Regions from separate parts of the Homo sapiens genome. Here region 2 is linked to region 1. The links come from fine-mapping of genetic effects on gene expression. A gene starts in region 1. The other region holds a variant in brackets. All regions are shown on one strand. Distances are from middle to middle. Region 1 holds the start of CDS2 (CDP-diacylglycerol synthase 2). Region 2 overlaps CDS2 (CDP-diacylglycerol synthase 2).

Region 1 (8,972 bases):
CATTATTTTATGTAGCACAAGCAAGAAAACTGTCAAACTTTTTTTTTTATTATTTTCTAGAGAGGGGAGTCTCCCTTTGACACCCAGGCTGGAGTGCAGTGGCAAGATGACTACTCACTGCCACCTCCAACTTCTAGGCTCGAGAGATCCTCTTGCCACCTCCCAAATAGCTGGGACTACAGGGGTGCACCACTGTACCTGGCTAATTTTTAAATGTTTTTGTAGAGAGAAGGTCCCACTATGTCGCTCTGGCTGGTCTCCAACTCCTGGGCTCAAGCAATCTTCCCAATCGGTCTCCCAAAGTGTGAGATTACAGGCATGAGCCACTGTGCCCAGCCTCAAACTGTTACACAATGCTTTATCACTTAGAATTTCTTTTTTTTTTTCTTTTTCTTTTTCTTTTTTTTTTTTCTGAGACAGAGTCTCACTCTATCACCCAGGCTGGAGTGCAGTGGTGTGATCTTGGCTAACCGCAATCTCCGCCTCCTGGGTTCAAGCAATTCTCATGCCTCAGCCTCCTGAATAGCTAGGATTACAGGCATGCGCCATCACACCTGGCTAATTTTTGTATTTTTAGTAGAGACGGGGTTTTGCCATGTTGGCCAGGTTGGTCTTGAACTCCTGACCTCATGTGATCTGCCTGCCTTGGCCTCCCAAAGTGCTGGGATTACAGGCATGAGCCACCGCGCCCGGGTCTATTTTGTTTTAAAAGAACTTTTAGACTTTAAAAACATTCTTATTATATATTACTCTTGTGCAAACATGAAAAAATTTAAGCTACATTGGTTAAGGCATTCCTACTGTTTCTCCACTCAGTTAGTTGCTGATTCTGCTGTTTTTCTGTATAATATCCTACTCTGTGTTGTCAAGGGTATTGATGATGCAGTATTTTTCAATAGTGCTATTCTATTGTCTCTGGAATTTCTTGCAAGCCTCTGCTACTCATTTGTAAGTTTTGATGTTGGCACTTTCTTGCTTTATGTGTGATGGACTACCCATTTGCATACATCTCAATATCAAAACATAATACAGCATCATCTGTTTGTGGTTCTTTTCCTTTCTTGGGTCCGTTAAAATCTCAGTTCCTTTGCAAAATGTGGAATGTGTTCCTTCCTCCAGTGAGGAACATTTGCTTCACTAAAAACAAATGCATATGCTCCACTACTCTGTTTCAGTTCTGTCTGCTTACATAATAACATTTTGGTTTAATGCCAAATTACATGTAATAGATTTGAAGACATTTTAAATGACAAACTCTATCCATGGGGGATCCACCATGTACATCAATCTGTTTATTTCTGCTCTATTACAGAAGTGATGTCCTCCTAAAAGTGTCAAATGATAAAGAGGTGTACAGTTACGTAAATTTTATGTTAAACTGAAATGAGGACATAAACATGCCTATGACTGTGGTCAGAGAAGGCCTCTCTGAGGAGGTAGCATCTTATCAGAGAAGACAGCTGCTTGGAGAGTTGGAAAAAAGCATTCTAGGCTGAGAGAATAGCATGATTATAAAGGTCAGCATACTTGGAATATATTCAGACAAGTTTGATGTAGAACTCAGACTGATGTGTCTGAAGCAAGAGTGGTGCAAGGTGAGGTTGCAGAGAGGCTGGGGTGAGCTCTTGCAGGACTTTGTAGGCTCTCTAAAAGTGCAAGGGAATGTGGTCAACAGCAGATCTTTGATGTGATCCAATTTACATTTTAAGTGGCTACTCTAACATCTAGTAAAGGTACTATTGGATCAGTGGGAGAAAGAATGAAGTAAATTTTGATCAGATAATTGGTTAAACTATTAGAAAAGAATAAAAGCTGTAGACTTTTCTGGATGGGCGCAGTGGCTCATGCCTGTAATCCCAGAACTTTGGGAGGCTGAGGTAGGTGGATCATCTGAGGTCAGGAGTTCGAGACCAGCCAGGCCAACATGGTGAAACCCCGTCTCTACTAAAAATACAAAAATTAGCTGGGCGTGGTGGTGCACACCTGTAATTCCAGATACTAGGGAGGCTGACGCAGGAGAATTGCTTGAACCCGGGAGGCAGAGGTTGCAGTGAACCAAGATTGCGCCACTGTACTCCAGCCTGGGTGACAGAGCAAACCTCCATCTCAAAAAAAAAAAAAAAGACTTTTCCTAATAATTATTCACTAAATTCTAGATAAAGAATTCAAATTCAAATCTTGACCCAATAAGAAATGGAAAAATATTTTGGTAAATATTTATGAGATCTTCCTATGGGCTTCCAAACATAAGAAAAAAACCCATAAAACATAATGAATAACCATACAAGTTTTAAGACTTCAGTATGCCTCAAAGGATTATATTGGTTAGTATAGTTTAGGTTTCAGTGACAGAGAACTCAACTTGAATGGATTAAGAGAAATAGAAAATTTATTCATCTAAACAAAAAGCCAGAGGTATCTGGCCTCCACTGTCCAGTCCTAGTCTTCATAAACGTGAAGTTTGTTAGCCACATTAATAAGCAAAGAAATGTAAATTCAATGGAGACAGAATTTTAACCTACCAAATTAATAAAAATCATGTTAACACCTGGTGTGTTAGGAAGGATTCAAGGAAGTAGGCACTTAAATACATTGCAAGTGGGAGTATACATTGGTATAATTTTTCTGGTGGAAACTTAGAAATGTGTATCAAAAGCCTTAGAATTTTACTTATTCTTTGACACAGAAATTCGATCTCTAGGGTTTTTTCCTACAGAAGAAATCAGGGGCATTTACCAAGATCAAGCATGCTTAAGAATGTTTCTTGAGCCAGGTGCAGTGGCTGATGCCTGTAATCCCAGCACTTTGGGAGGCCCAGGTGGGCGGATCACCTGAGGTCAAGAATTCAAAACCAGCCTGACCTAAAACCCCTGTCTCTACTAAAAATACAAAAATTAGCCAGCTGTGGTGGCGGGCGCCTGTAGTCCCAGCTACTCGGGAGGCTGAGACAGGAGAATTGCTTGAACCTGGGAGGCGGAGGTTGCAGTGAGCCGAGATCACACCATTGCACTCCAGCCTGAGCAACAAGAGGGAAACTGTCTAAAAAAAAAAAACAAAAAACAAACAAAAAGAAAACAAAAAACGAAAAGAGAGAGAGAGAAGGGCTCTAAAGCTGGCCTAAAGCCCTATTAGCATCACTTCCACCAGACCCCTGTTCGTCACACAGTACTGACTTCAGGAATATACTTGATCTGAGTTCCATTAACCTGAGAGGGCTGAGTGTAATGGATGAGAAGTTTGTTCAGACCACATGTTATCCATCCTAGTAATCATGCTGTGCATTCTATAATTCTGACTTATGTGCATTGATTCTCCAAGCCTCCTTTTATTAGGCTGGATTTGAAAAGGAGCAGCTGAGTTTCTAGAAGGACTGACATGACACTCACTTAGATATGACCTTTCATACCTACGTGCCCCTGAAGGTGAAGTTCTAGACACTAACATCTTCACCTGTCTTAGAAGATCATCTTGCTCGAGTGCTGTGGCTCATGCCTGTAATCCCAGAACTTTAGGAGGCCTATGTGGGAGGATTGCTCGAGCCCAGGAGTTTAAGACCAGCCTAAGCAATAAAGTGAGACTTCATCGCTACACAAAAATTTAAAAGTTAGCTGGGTGTGGTGCTGCACACCTGTAGTCCAAGCTACTCGGGCATATACTCATATAGAAATCAGGAATATATAATGCTGTTTTCAGAATTCTCACTACCTGCCCCAAAACTCACAGCTCAGGTCAAAATTACCAATAGGAAATTTTAGCCAGGCATGGTAGCTCATGCCTGTAATCCCAGCACTTTGGGAGACCTAGGCGGGAGGATCTCTTGAACCCAGGAGTTCAAGACCAGTCTGGGCAACATAGTGAGACCCTGTCTCTAAAAAAAGGAGAAATAAATTAATTAAAATTTAAAAATTGAAAAGAAGAAAAATGTAAAATTATATTTTTTTAAAAAACGAAATTGCAATTCTTTTGTGTGCAAGTGTCTCATTGTGAGATTACAGTATGCTTAAGTTGGGGACGCAGTGTTATATGTGTTTTACATCACTTACAGGGCAGTGAATAGAAAGAACAGGAAACACCAAAGGCAATGCTGGAGCAACACAAGTATTAATAAATGCAGGCAGGCAGTATAGTATGGTGGTTAGAGTGTGGGCTGGTAACAAACCTGTTTGTGTTCTAATTCTTACTAGGCACTTTCTAGCTGGGAGACCTTGGCTAAGGTCCTTTTAAAAGTTTTAAATCCATCCAACAAGTACTTACAATGGATGTGTCAAAGACATAGAGGATGCACAGTAAACAAAGTAGACAGCACTTCTGTCCCAAAAAAGGTCTTTCCATAGTCCAGAAGACAAATTTGAAAAACTGAGGAAGGGCCAGGCTCGGTGGCTCACGCCTGTAATCCCAGCACTTTGGAAGGCGGAGGCGGACGGATCACCTGAGGTCAGGAGTTCGAGACCAGCCTGACCAATATGGTGAAACCCCGTCTCTACTAAAAATACAAAAGTTAGCCGGGCGTGGTGGCGCGCACCTTGGAATTGTTTGCGCCCGGGAGGCAGAGGTTGCAGTGAGTCGAGATCATGCCACTGCACTCCAGCCTGGGCGACAGAGCGAGACTCCGTCACAAAACAAACAAACAAACGAACAAACAAACAAACCACTGAGGAAGATCTTAACTGTAAAATTCAAATCATACCCACTTCCAAGCCATGTGTGGATTAAACGAGATAAGCCAACTAAAGCGATTACTCAGCTCAGTGCCTAGTATACAATTAGTGCTTAACAAGTACTAGCGACCGCTTGGCAAAGCAAAGCAGACTGAAGCGTGGGTTTCATTTCTCATCATGTGATAAGTGATAAAATGCTCTTAACCAGGTCGGCTCACCTGGCCTTTCCATTCGACCTAAATAACGTCTACTTACTTGCGTAAGGGAAGAGCTCTGGCCCAGGTCAGCAAGCATTTGTCAGGCTAGAGCCTCCGGGTGGCGCTTCTCGCCCTCAGTAACCGGTTACCTCCAGAACCAGGGCGCCAGCTCCGGCCATCCGCGGTTAAGCGGGAGCTCCCATTGGCTAATCGCACACTGAAACGCACGCCTTTTCCCGCCCCTGACGCTGCCGTCCAATGCGCGCCTCTCGACTCTGCTCCGCCCCGCCCCGCCCCCGTCGCCCTGCCTCCCTGGCGTATTTGCGCCATTGGTGGATATTCCGGACCGTGATGGTGGCGCTGCGCGTGCGCACTCGCTCCGAGCCCTGCTCCCGGGAGAGGGAGCTCTCGGGTCGGGGCTAGGGAAGGCTGACCCCGCTCGGCCCGGGTGAAAGGGCGGTGACGGCACTGGGTGGGGCCGAGCTCCAGGGCTGGCTGCTGGGCTGCTAAGGGAACTGTGAGCCGCTCAGAGCCGCGCGCCTCCCGGGCGGGGCGGGGCCGGCCGTGGGAGTCCGCGCGTGCCCGCGCCGAGCTGCCTGCTCCGGCGGCTTCGCTGCTAGCTCGCGGCGACGTCGGGCCGATTTTCCCAGGATGACAGAGCTGAGGCAGAGGGTGGCCCATGAGCCGGTTGCGCCACCCGAGGACAAGGTAGCGGCAGCGTCGGGGTGGGCGCGGCCGGGACAGCGGCGCATCCGGGAGGCCTGCGGGGGACGCGCGCAGAGGGGTCGTCTTGTTCTCTGACCCTTTGTCGCAGCCGACGGCGGCCCCGGGCCCGGGTAGCGCGAAGGGCCCTCGGGTGCCCGGCCTTCGCGGCGCGCGCGTCAGGGGTCGGCGGGTCGGGGTCCCGGCTCAGGGTCTGACTGAAGTGGCTCCCCCGGGGCGCAGGAAGGAGCTTCTCGGGAGTGGCGCACGGCCTCCTGCCTCGCTGGGCTGGCTGCGGGGACTCCCCTCTCCCCCAACTCCGTGAGGCCTTCCTGGAGGTGAAGATATGCAGAGCCTTCTTAGGGAGGCGGCTCCTCTGAGCGCAACTTAGGCTCTCCGTTCCCTTTTACAATGTTATTATTTTGGGGGGTGGGGGAATCAGGACAAGGCCATAGCATTTGCCTCCTGGGAGATGTAAATCCCTTCTTGGGCATGAAATCATCGGCTTTGAGCAAAGGGGTGTTACCCAGTGAGCCAGTCCGTCATCAGCAGGTGTTGGAGGGCGTCCTCCCGGTTGATGGGTTGTTTCCTGCACCGTGTGGGCTCTGGTGGGTAGGGGAGGAGAGTAGGAAGGAGGCCATCTTGGCGGGGACAGTGGCGGGGGTGACGGGTGGGGGAGTGGACTCCTTTGGGTGAAGTGAAAGATCTGTGTAGGGGAGTTAAGGAAGGTAGGGATTGGTTTTATTACTGTGGAGGTTGAATGGCAGTATAGGACTTTGTAGCAGTAGTTGTGCTTTCCGAGATAGCAGTGATCAGGAGCCCTGTGTTTGGGAAACTGATCAGACAGTGATGTGTAGAAGGGACTGAGGGAGCCTGGACCAGACTGAGGGAGCCTGGTTCACTCGGGATTGCCCATGAGTGACCTGTAGATGTTTTCTTTGGCCCACATATTGCCTTAAAAATCAGAAAGTTTCTCCTAACAATCTAAATTTCTTGCCTGTCTTAGATAATTGGAGGGTCCACCATCACTTTGTCACCTGCTCAATGGTTGGCTGGAGCTGAGGATCATCGGTTCCCACCAATCCCTGTTGCCTTACACCAGGCTCACGGCTTCCCCTAATGCAGCCTGTAACTTTTTGATGACTGGACGCAACGGACATTAGGGAGACACCCAGAAGGAAGAAAGCACAAGATTTGGTGACAGGATGTCAACAGAGCAGTTACACTAGGAGGAATGTTTTTGGTGAAAGATAATGAGATCATGGGTTTTTTTTAAACAACTTTCGTGTTATTGCAGTTGACAGTGGACTATCCAAAGAGAACTGTTCCTACCGATTTTTAGAACATATATTTTGGCCAGGCACAGTGCTGCTCGCCTGTAATCCTAGCTTCTAGGGAGGCTGAGGCAGGAGGATCGCTTGAGCCCAGGAGTTTGAGACCCTGTCTCAAAAAACAAAAACAAAAACATATTTTGGAGAACATTTAGGGCTGGGGCTGAGGATTTAGCAGTCGCTTGCAGAGACAAGATACTTTGAAGTCTCTAATTTTTCATTTGGCTATCCTGGTTCAGCCTGAAAGAATTCTGACTTACCTTGTACTACTAGTTGGTGAGTATGCAGATGTTTGGAGGCTCTGTAGCTCTGTTTAAGGGTGAGATCATGCTTGATGTTAGTGGGACTTTGTGGACCTAGAAGGTGTGAGGAGAGAGAGAAGAAAGAAGGCATGATAGCTGGTGGGCCATGTTTTTGAAAAGCTAACTATGTACAATAATTAGAATGTCAAAAAACAACCTTGGGATTATGAGATGCAACATAAAGATTCTACCCTCCTTCCCGGACTCGTTGGATCCATCCCCCAGAGATAAAGTGCGAGTTGAACCGTCTTACTTTCACATCCTGTACTTTAGACTGGGAGGACCTGAGGAGCTGTCCAGCTAGAGGTGCACTTATATCACTTATACAGTGACAGAATGCCTGGGGTCATGAGGTCCACTTGTGGCGTGTTGTTTCCTAAAAGACAGCTGCTATGCACTCTGTTAAAAGCCTGATGTTCATTACCGAGAACAAGACAATCAGTTCCTCACCCCATTATTCAGAACTTCTCAATTGTCACTGAATTGTCATGTATGGGATTTTATTATTATTATTTTTTTAGACGGAGTCTCTCTCTGTCGCCCAGGCTGGAGTGCAGTGGCACGATCTCAGCTCACTGCAACCTCTGCCTCCCAGGTTCAAGCTAGTCTCCTGCCTCAGCCTCCTGAGTAGCTGGGACTATAGGCATCCGCCACCACGCTCGGCTAATTTTTTTTTTTTTTTTTGAGAGGGAGTTTCGCTCTTTTGCCCAGGCTGGAGTGCAATGGCATGATGTTGGCTCATCGCAACCTCTACCTCCCAGGTTCAAGCAATTCTCCTGCCTCAGCCGCCCGAGTAGCTGGGACTGCAGGCGTGTGCTACCATGCCCGGCTAATGTTGTATTTTTAGTAGAGGCACGGCTTCTCAATGTTGGTCAGGCTGGCCTCAAACTCCCAACCTTAGGTGATCCTCCCGCCTCAGCTTCCCAAAGTGCTGGGATTATAGGCATGAGCCACTGTACCTGGCGTTTTTTTTTTTGTATTTTTAGTAGAGATGGGGTTTCACTGTATTGGCCAGGCTGGTCTTGAACTCCTGACTTCGTGATCTGCCCGCCTCGGTCTCCCAAAGTGCTGAGACTACAGACGTGAGCCACCACACCTGGCCATGTTTGGGATTTTTAATAAGGGAACATTTTAAAAACTGTGAAATCTATTATTTGTCTTTGAATGTATATAGTAAACTTTTGTTTGTTGGTTTGTTTTTTTGTTTTTTTTTGAGACAGAGTTTCGCTCTTGTTGCCCAGGCTGGAGTGCAATGGCACAATCTCGGCTCACTGCAACCTCCACCTCCCGTGTTCAAGCAATTCTCCTGCCTTAGCTTCCCCAGTACCTGGGATTACAGGTGCCTGCCATCACGACTGGCTAATTTTTTTGTGTTTTTAGTAGAGACGAGGTTTCACCATGTTGGCCAGGTTGGTCTCGAACTCCTGACCTCAGGTGATCTACCCACTTTGGCCTCCCAAAGTGCTGGGATTACAGGTGTGAGCCACCGTGCCCGGCCCATAGTAAACTTTTAAAAAATCCTGATTTATTCTGTTTCATAGTTTGGGAAACACCTACTTCCATGACTTTGGCTTTGCCAATATTCTTGTGTTAGAACCCAAGGAAATTAGAAATAATAAATTTTAAGGAAATGCATTATGAAACAAGAACTTTTTAATTTCATAGTAGAAGAATCCAGTGAACAATTTTCAAGTCAGTGCTTTAAAAGCTCTGGAATAGGCTGGGCGCGGTGGCTCACGCCTGTAATCCCAGCACTTTGGGAGGCTGAGGTGGGCAGATCAC
Region 2 (8,972 bases), 37 kb after region 1:
GGTTGATTTTGAGCACGTGACCTCAAGTGATCTACCTGCCTTGGCCTCCCAAAGTGCTGGGATTACATGTAGGTGTAAGCCACTGGGCCTGGCCTAGGTCATCATTTTTTAAACAACCCTGTAAAATCTCACCAAGATTTTTCACTTGTTTCCAGATTATAATGGATTCTGTTTGACTCTGGTCTCCAGGTTGTCAAATGACATATTTTCAGGATATAAGACTATAAGTAGACTTTTCTATTAACAGTAAAGCTTGTGAATCTTGGTTTGATATGTACAAACAGAGCCACCACTATGTACCCCAGTTTCTGGTTGGAGTGACAGAATGAGAACACAGCCAATTTCTGAGCAGCTAGCGGTTTGGGGACACAGTAGGAATTTAATACTGGGTGATCGTTGTATCTTACAAGGTGCATCCTCAAGTAGTAATAACTCATTTGTCAGAGATATATGGTGGTGTTTTGCAGTGATTTGCAAACTGTGTTCTCTGCTGATACGTTAGGGGTTCTCCAAACAAAATTTAAATCTGACAGTGAAGATGAATTGAGACTCCTTCACGCTGTTATCTCAGCACAGGTGAGGGTGAGGCACTTGATGTTAGGAAAACCTTGCTTTAACCCATGTGTCTTTGCGATGGAACAGAAGGATAAGCGAGCCGCTTTGAAAATCAGATTGAATTTTTTTTTTGTAGTAAAGTTTTATCAAACATTTAAGACCTTTACAAACTTGACTAAATTTTGTTATTCATTTCAAATTAATATCAGAAATCTAATGTGTTACATTTTCTTTTTTTTAATATATATTTTAAATTATACTTTAAGTTCTAGGGTACATGTGCACAACGTGCAGGTTTGTTACATATGTATACATGTGCCATGTTGGTGTGCTGCACCCATTAACTCGTCATTTACATTAGGTATTTCTCCTAATGCTTTCCCTCCCCCTCCCCCCACCCCACAACAGGCCCCAGTGTGTGACATAAATTTTATGTCAGATAATGTAGAACAGAGAAGCATCAAAAAATGACTCAATGGTCTTGATAAATTCATTTGAAGATGAAATTATGTTAAAATTTTATAGTTCAGTAATTTAAAAGTATATTATAGTTTTTTTCTTTTTGTTTTGGATGATTTGCATGTAAACAAGTGTAAGGAATCTTTGTAAAGCATCAGAAGAAAATTTTAGGTGTTTTGATGTTCATTAACAGACTATTAGCAAGATGTCAAAGGAATAATAATGCCTGTGCAGATGGTAACTGCTTTGTTCTGTTCCTCTTTTCCCCCAAAACAGATTTGTAAAAATTGTATTTGTTACATTATTCACAAACCTTTTCTACAAAATATATACCAAACTGGGTTCTTTTGAAAGATTTTTCTAGTAATTTTTAGGTCATTTCCATATATATTATGTGCAGTTTAAAAAGCAAACCAACCCTAGTTTGTTAAATAATTACCCTGTTTTTACTTAAAAAAAATGGGGTTGTGCACCTGTGTAAAGTTTGTACATCTTAGCAGTATAAATTACTGACACATTTTTAAAAATGAAGTAAAAACTCAGAATCCTTGTGATTCAGTGCCCTTATGTTTTTAAAAAAGAGGAAAAAATAATGCAAGATTCAGAATATTGGAGTGGTTGATATGCCTTCTTCATTTTAGTTTTTGACTGGCTGCTCATATGCCGATGATGATGAAGCTGAGCTGTTTGTGCCACTGCCATTTGATGCTGCGAGAATCACAACTGTTTCATCTGTTGCTGCTGCTATTAAAAGGCAGAGTAGTAACTGGCCACTGAATTAAATTTAAAAGAAAGGCAGGGGAGAGCCGGCATCTCTGCTGAGGATGGCTTTGCTTAGGTCTTTTCTTAGCCCTGCAACTACTTAACACTTCATATGCTTGCTGAAGGGGTAGGTCTGCCCTTGACTGGTTGAACCTTGTTCAGAATCCTGTTCACCTGGCTGTTGAGGACTAGAAGTTGTAGGTTGCTGAGGTGGTGTTGGGGGTTCTAGCCCCCTCCTCACAGTAGTAGGGGAACCAGAGTTTTGGGGAGCCTTAGCAGTTTTCTTCCTGGTTGCAGGTTGGGGTGGATACAGCTGTTAGACTGTCTGCATTGTCCAGTATAGTAGCCACTAGCCACATGTGGCCAATTAAACCTTTTCTTACTGTGGCTAAATATTATATATATCATAAAATTGATAATTTTAACCATTTTCAAGTGTATGGTTCTATGGCATTGAGTACGTTAACATTGTTTTGCAACTGTCACCAGAACAAACATTCCAGAATATTTTCATCTTCCCCAAATGAAACTCTGTACCCATTAAACAACTCTCCCCTCTCACTCCCCCAGCCCCTGACAACCACCATTCTATTTTCTGTCTCTACGAATTTGACTACTCTAGGTACCTCATGTAAGTGGAATCATATATTTGTCCTTTTGTGTGTGGCTTATTTCACTTAGCACAATGTCCTCAAGGTTCATCCATGTGGTAGCATGTGTGAGAATTTCCTTCCTTTTTAAGGCTGAATAATATGCCACTGTATATGTATACTACATTTTGTTCATTCCTTTGTTGATAGATACTTGGATTGCTTCTACTTTTTTGTTTATTGTGAATAAGGCTGCTATGAACATGGGTGTACAAATATCTCTTTGAGTCCCTGCCCTCAGTTCTTTTGGGTATATACCCAGAAGTGGAATTGCTGAGTCATGTGGTAATTCTATATTTGATTTTTTGAGGAACTGCCAGGCTGTTTACTATAGCAGCTGCATTATTTTACATTCTGACCAACAGTGCACAAGGGTTTCAGTTTTTTCACATCTTCTCCAGTACTTGTTATTTTGGTTTTTCTTTTTTCTTTTTTGAAAATAGCCACTCTAGTGGATGTGAAGTGTGTGGCAGTTTAAATTTAATTAAAAATAAATACATAAATTCACTTCCTTAGTCTCGCTAGCCACATTTTAATTGTTCAATAAGCCACACACAGCTGTGGCTCTCATATTGGACAGTATAGAGAGAACATTTCCATTATTGCAGAAAGTTCTATACTGACAAAACCTGGAGGTAGCAGTGGACCTGAAAGGGATTGATCCAAGCCCAGCAGAGTCCCAAGGATTCAATCAATTGATAACTGACACATACATTGAGAGGCAATCCATTGATAACTGACACATACTTTGTGTAAGTAGTATAATCCAGTATAGACATAGTTTTATATTCTGCCTTTTTCATGTTGCTGCACGGTGTTTATAGTAGTCTTGTTAATAGCTGCACAGAAAGTTGATTTACCGTAATTTACCTAATAATTTTTCCTTGTTAGGGACATAAAACCAGTTTCTCCTTTTCAGTACTGCAGTAGAGTATGCTCATTTCCCAGTTGTCTCCAGGCCTAGCCCTTCTGGTTTCTTCATCTGTTCATTTTATCGTCTTGCTCTTTTTTGTCTCCTTACTGTTTTAACCACTCTATTGGACGTACTTGGCCTCTAAGTAAAGTTTGACTAACGCTAACTAGAACCAGACCATGCCTGTGTTAATATAGCCTAAAATGCCATTAGCTATTTTTGCTGTTTGAACTGCTTGTACCATCTTGGGTCAAGTGCCTACTCCAAAACAGTCAAGGTGCACATTGCCTTAGGCTGGGGTAAATGCCTGTTCGTGAACCTATCACTGTGGCAGAGGGGCAGAATTAAAAATAAGTAGACTGTACAAGCTGCTGTATACCATGAAATAGTTTATGGATTTTTAGGAGGGAACCAACTGCAGTGTCCAGTACCTGGGGGAAGATAGGGAGATAAGAATTAAGGGTCGAACATCCCAAAATCAAAAATTTGAAATTTTCAAAATCTGAAACTTTTTGAGTGCCAATGTGATGCTCAAAGGAAATGCTCATTGGAGCATTTTGAATTTAGGATTTTCTGATTAGGGATGCTCAGCCAGTAAGTATAATGCAAATATTCCAAATTCTGAAAAGAACTCTGAAATGCAAAACACTTCCGGTCTCAAGCATTTTGGTTAAGGGGTATTCAATCGCTACCTCTCAGGTTTCTGGCTTATGCAGGGTATATAGACTCGCATGCTGTCAACTGATTGACTAGGCAAGACTTCAGGATCAGTAGTTTTACGGACAATGTCAAAAGTGTTCTGTTTAGATGTGTTACTTTTGAGATGCCTGTAAGAACTTTCTCGTGGAGATGTCAGTAAGTGGTTGGAAATATGAATCTGAAGCTTGGGGGAGAAGTTGGGGTTGGAGATACAAATGTTGGGGTCATTGGCATGGAATTGGTAATTAAAGCCAAGGGGCTGGATGATGATACCTAGGGAGAGAGTGTGGTAGGTCCAGAACTGAGCCCAGGGCCCATTCAACATTTTGAAGTCAGGTAGACTTCAAAGTCACAGGAGACTGAGAAAGAGCAGCCAGTCAGGTAGAGTGAGAACCTGATAAGTATGGTATGGAGGTAGCTGAGAGGAGAATGTTTCAAGGAGGAAATGGTCAACTAGATCTGACATTGCCAAGATATATGATAAGATGAAGGCAGG[G/A]GAATCTGTCTGATTTGGCAGCATGGAGGTTGTTTTATTTACTTATGTTTGAAGATGCACTTTAGTCTCCAGAGCCTAGGGAGATCATACTGAGGCCACATTGACTTTTCTTTGCTGGGGTAATGGATATTTGAAAGTAATTTGATGGCCAGGTACTGTGGCTCATGCTTATTCTCCCAGCACTTTGGGAGGCCAAAGCGTGAGGATCACTTGAGGCCAGAAGTTCGAGACCAGCCTGGGCAATGTAGAGAGGCTCTTTCCTTTTAATTACTGGTTTTCAAAAAAAGATTTGGTGTTTCAGCACCCTTCAGAGGTGGCCAAAGTAGTTTTTTTTGTTTCGTTTTTATTTTTATTTATTTTTTTGAGACAGAGTTTTGCTCTTGTTGCCCAGGCTGAAGTGCAATGGCTCCATCTCAGCTCACCATAACCTCCACCTCCCGGATTCAATCGATTCTCCTGCCTCAGCCTCCTGAGTATCTGGGAGTACAGGCATGGGCCACCACTCCCTGCTAATTTTGTGTTTTTAGTAGAGACAGGGTTTCTCCCTGTTGGTCAGGCTGGTCTCGAACTCCCAACCTCAGGTGATCCACCCGCCTCGGCCTCCCAAAGTGCTAGGATTATAGGCGTGAGCCACTGCGCCTGGCCAGTAGTTTCTTACAGTTATCATTATGAACTCATAAATTTTCATATACTTGTGTTTAAATCACTTTTTGTTTATTATTTTAATGCTCAAATTGTCCTATCGTTGGCCATTAGGAATGTTTCTTCAAAGACTTTCTCATTTTCAATTTAATTTTTTCCCCAGGTATCCTTAGTGATTTATCAAAAAGAGAAAGAAACTATTTAGCATTGTGGCTTTCATAATTTCTTTCTTTCTTTTTTTTTTTTTTTTTGAAGCAGAGTCTAGCTCTGTCGCCCAGGCTGGAAAGCAGTGGTGCAAACTCGGCTCACTGCAGCCTCTACCTCCCAGGTTCAAGCAGTTCTCTTGCCTCAGCCTCCCAAGTAGCTGGGATTACAGGTGCCCACCACCACGCCTGGATAATTTTTGTGTTTTTAGTAGAGACGGAGTTTCACCATGTCGGCCAGGCTGGTCTTGAACTCCTGACCTCAGGTGATTGCCCACCTTGGCCTCCTGAAGTGCTGGGATTAGAGGCACGAGCCACCGCACCCACCCCATAATTTCTTCTATAACTAATATGACACATTTGGGATTGAGAACACTGTTAATTCCATGTTCTTCAAGGGAGAAACATACTAGTTTCTCCCTTGAATAGTTACAGTCTATTTGATTGGTACTTGATTCCATGATGGTTGGTTATAAACCAGGAATACTACAAAAGTGACAATATAATGTTCCAATATGGTAAACAGCCCCAGGGTGCTTGTCTGCCCACAGGAGTAGGGGAGGTTGGGGCATGAGACACTGGGGACATTTGCTCTCATGTCTACTTATTTTGTCTAGGAATCTTTGTAGAAAACACTATTGTGAGGTGAGTGACAGTGAAGCAGGTACCAGATGGCGATTTATGATTTAGGGGCTCGTCGCATGTGGAGCCCAGCAGCTGTCCTGGTTCTACTTCCTGACAGAGGTCTGGGGAGCACACTTGAGCCCAGTTTTGAGATTGCGAATATATTTTTCTTCTCCATCTTACTAGATCTTTTGGCAGTATTAGACATACTCCCTCCTTGGGAGAGCTTTATCTTAATAAACTGAAAAAAAAAAAAAATTCCTTCCTTCCCCAGTAGCGCTGAAAACTCATTTTCCCTTAAATACTAAATAGAGATGCCCGACTAAGGAACTGATAATAGAAGGACCCGTTGGACTCCAGTGGGGCTTCTGATTTTTGGTGTCTTTCCCCTAACCCTGGAAGACAATAGGAAAACAAGTGATGTCATCGGAACAGAGCCGTTGGCAGAGCCTCCTGGGGACCTGAGTGGTTTTCTTGTCTCTGATAGTCTCTGTTCTGAATTAAGTAATGGCTTGTGATGGAGGTTGGTACTTCCTGCAGCTATTTCATATTTATAGTCATATGCTTGCTGTTAGTAAACAGATGCATCTACTCCAGAAGGAGGCTTCAATGGGCAAGGTGGGAGAGAGTGTTGGGAGAAAGGATTCCTGGTCATTCCTTGTCACAAAAATTATGGGTTTAATGTATGAGACTGGCAGTCATGCAGAGGTTGGGACTCAGTACAACTGTACGTATTTGAGTTAGAAAGCCTTGCATTCCTAGAAGCTGGATTTCAGACAGGATTTCCTCATCCTTTCTGAGACATACAGATTCTGTACTTTTTTTGGAAACCCCCGTATTGCTTAGGATACATTTGGCCACAAATGTCTAAGAAGAAGGGGAGATAAACAGTGGGACAGCTGGCTGCAGCCCTAAAATGCCTCCTCTAGTGCTACTGAGTGCAAAAATGAATTGTCAGCCTACGCGACATGTAGCCCAGCTACACCTGCCACTTCAGCAAACCCTGGATTCTCTCAGCATCATTGGCTCTGGCTGCCTCTGCAGATGTGGTTCTAGGTGCCAGGCCAGGTGCTGGGGGTACAGTGGTGAGGAAGTCAACATGGCTCCCCCACAGAGATGATGGTCTCGAGGCGGAGACTATGCGGTGTGGGAAGCCGTCTTTTTTTGTTTTTTTGTTTTTTTGAGACAGGGTCTTGCTCTGTCATCTAGGCTGGAATGCAGTGGCATGATCAGGTCTCACTGCAGCCTCAATCTCCTAGGCTTAGGCGATCCTCCCACTTTGGCCTCCCAAAGTTTTGGGATTACAGGCATGAACCACGGTGGGGAGCACTCCTAAGGAAGGACAGGGGCCGCTGGGACACACAGGCAGTTGGGGAAGATTTGGAGAGAAAGGGAACTCTTAAAAGATCAAGGAAAATTTGCTGGAAGAGAAGTGGGTTTTAGTAGAGGGTGGTTTGCAGACTGTTTAAGTAGGAACACAGGAGCAAAAGTCCTAAAGGTAAGAAAGTACAACCTGTTCTAGAAACTGACTCTAGTTCAGAATGGCTGTAAGAGATAAGGCTGGATGAGTAGATAAGACCCTGATCTCAAGGGGCTTGTATGCCATTTTGAAGACCTGTCATCTAGGTACTGGGGAGCTGTGGAAGGGGTTCAGGATGGAGAGTGACACAATCAGAATTTCTGGGAAGGTCCTCGTGTTGCAGTGGCGAGAGCGTAGGTGGGAGTGGACTCTAGGCTGAAGGTGAGGTAGCCAGTTAGGCTGTTGCAGTTACTCAGGAGGGATGATGTTGGCTTGAATTAAGGGAATGACAGGTGGCATAAGGAGTGGATGCAACTGAAAGCTGTTTTGGAGGTAGCATGAACAAGCTTGGTGACAGATCTACAAGCTGAGAAAGGAGCCACTAAGGGTGATGGCCACCTTGTTCTCTTGAAAATTCGGGGAAAGGGTACCATTTGCTAAGATAAGTCACATAGTAGAAGGAAGAGGTTTGTGGGAAGAGATGATGAGCTTGGTTTTGGACACATGGTGAGTTTTAGGTGTCTGTGGAGACATCTAGTAGTTATTTGGATTTAGGGTCTGTAGCTCAAGAAGAGACAGCAGGGAGCATGAGAATGAATGGGGAAACTCAGGGAGAGTGGGAGGCAGCAGAAGAATAAGAGAGCTTAGGACCAACCCCAAGGAACCCTCAAATGCGGGGACAGGCTGATGAAGAGGCAGTTCCTAAGGAGAAGGTCAGCTAAAGATGCCTGGCCAGAGAGGCAGGCATCAACCCAGGGGGAGGTGCTGCTTGGAAGCCAGAGGAAGAGTGTTTTTCAATAGTAGCATTAAAAGCTGCTGAGGGATTGAACGAGGTGAGGACTGAGTCCCTGCTGGGTTTCGTGACAAAGTCCTTGTTGACCTGGGAGAGCTGCTTCAGTGGAACAGGTGGGGTTGAAGTTGGGTTGTTGTGGTTTGAGGAATGATGCACAGCCAGGGAGGGGACATGAAATGTCGACAGCTCTTCCCAGAGGTTTACCCATGAAGTGGGGAAGAAAGTGCATTGGTTGGATGAGCTGTCAGAAGTTGTTTGTTGAGCCTGCCTAGATGGTTGTAAGTAGGGCTGTGGTGAGGGAGAGAGATGAGAAGATGGAGAGGGCAATGGAGTGAGTCTCTAAGGAGGTGGGAGGAGAAGGCATGGCAAGCACATGGCTGACTCCGAGTGTGGCTGTCCTGGGGACAGTTGTCCTTTGCCATCAGTGTTGTGTCCTCTACCAAGTCCCCTGTGGTCCTTTGTAAATAGCTTTATCTGGAGACAGAATGGCTCACAGCCAGTTAGGTTTTAAGAAGCTGAATCTGCCACATTCATGTATTTTCTTGTCCTTTCTCTGAGTGCAGTTAACCTGTTAGAGATGCCGGAAGTGAAGCTGTCCATCTGGGTAGCTGAATACATTTTCTTTGAATCCCATTATTGCTGTGAGGCTTTTGAAGG

What was found. PIP is the estimated chance that this variant, and not a neighbour inherited with it, causes the effect.
Region 2: its variant is fine-mapped to the expression of CDS2 in whole blood (INTERVAL, PIP 0.93).

The regions. Positions count from the first base shown.
Region 1 is chr20:5,121,587-5,130,558 of GRCh38, forward strand. CDS2 (CDP-diacylglycerol synthase 2) reads left to right here and starts at 5,422. Exons shown (of 13, transcript NM_003818.4): 1 at 5,422-5,563. The coding sequence starts at 5,507. It also overlaps a transcript of PCNA not described here. RefSeq lists a silencer at 4,911-5,830 and enhancers at 5,093-5,594, 6,171-6,260.
Region 2 is chr20:5,158,382-5,167,353 of GRCh38, forward strand. All of the region lies in intron 1 of CDS2 (CDP-diacylglycerol synthase 2), which reads left to right. Among named protein-coding and RNA genes, the nearest start is that of CDS2, 36 kb to the left of the region's middle. The variant G/A (reference allele first, on the strand shown) is at 4,535.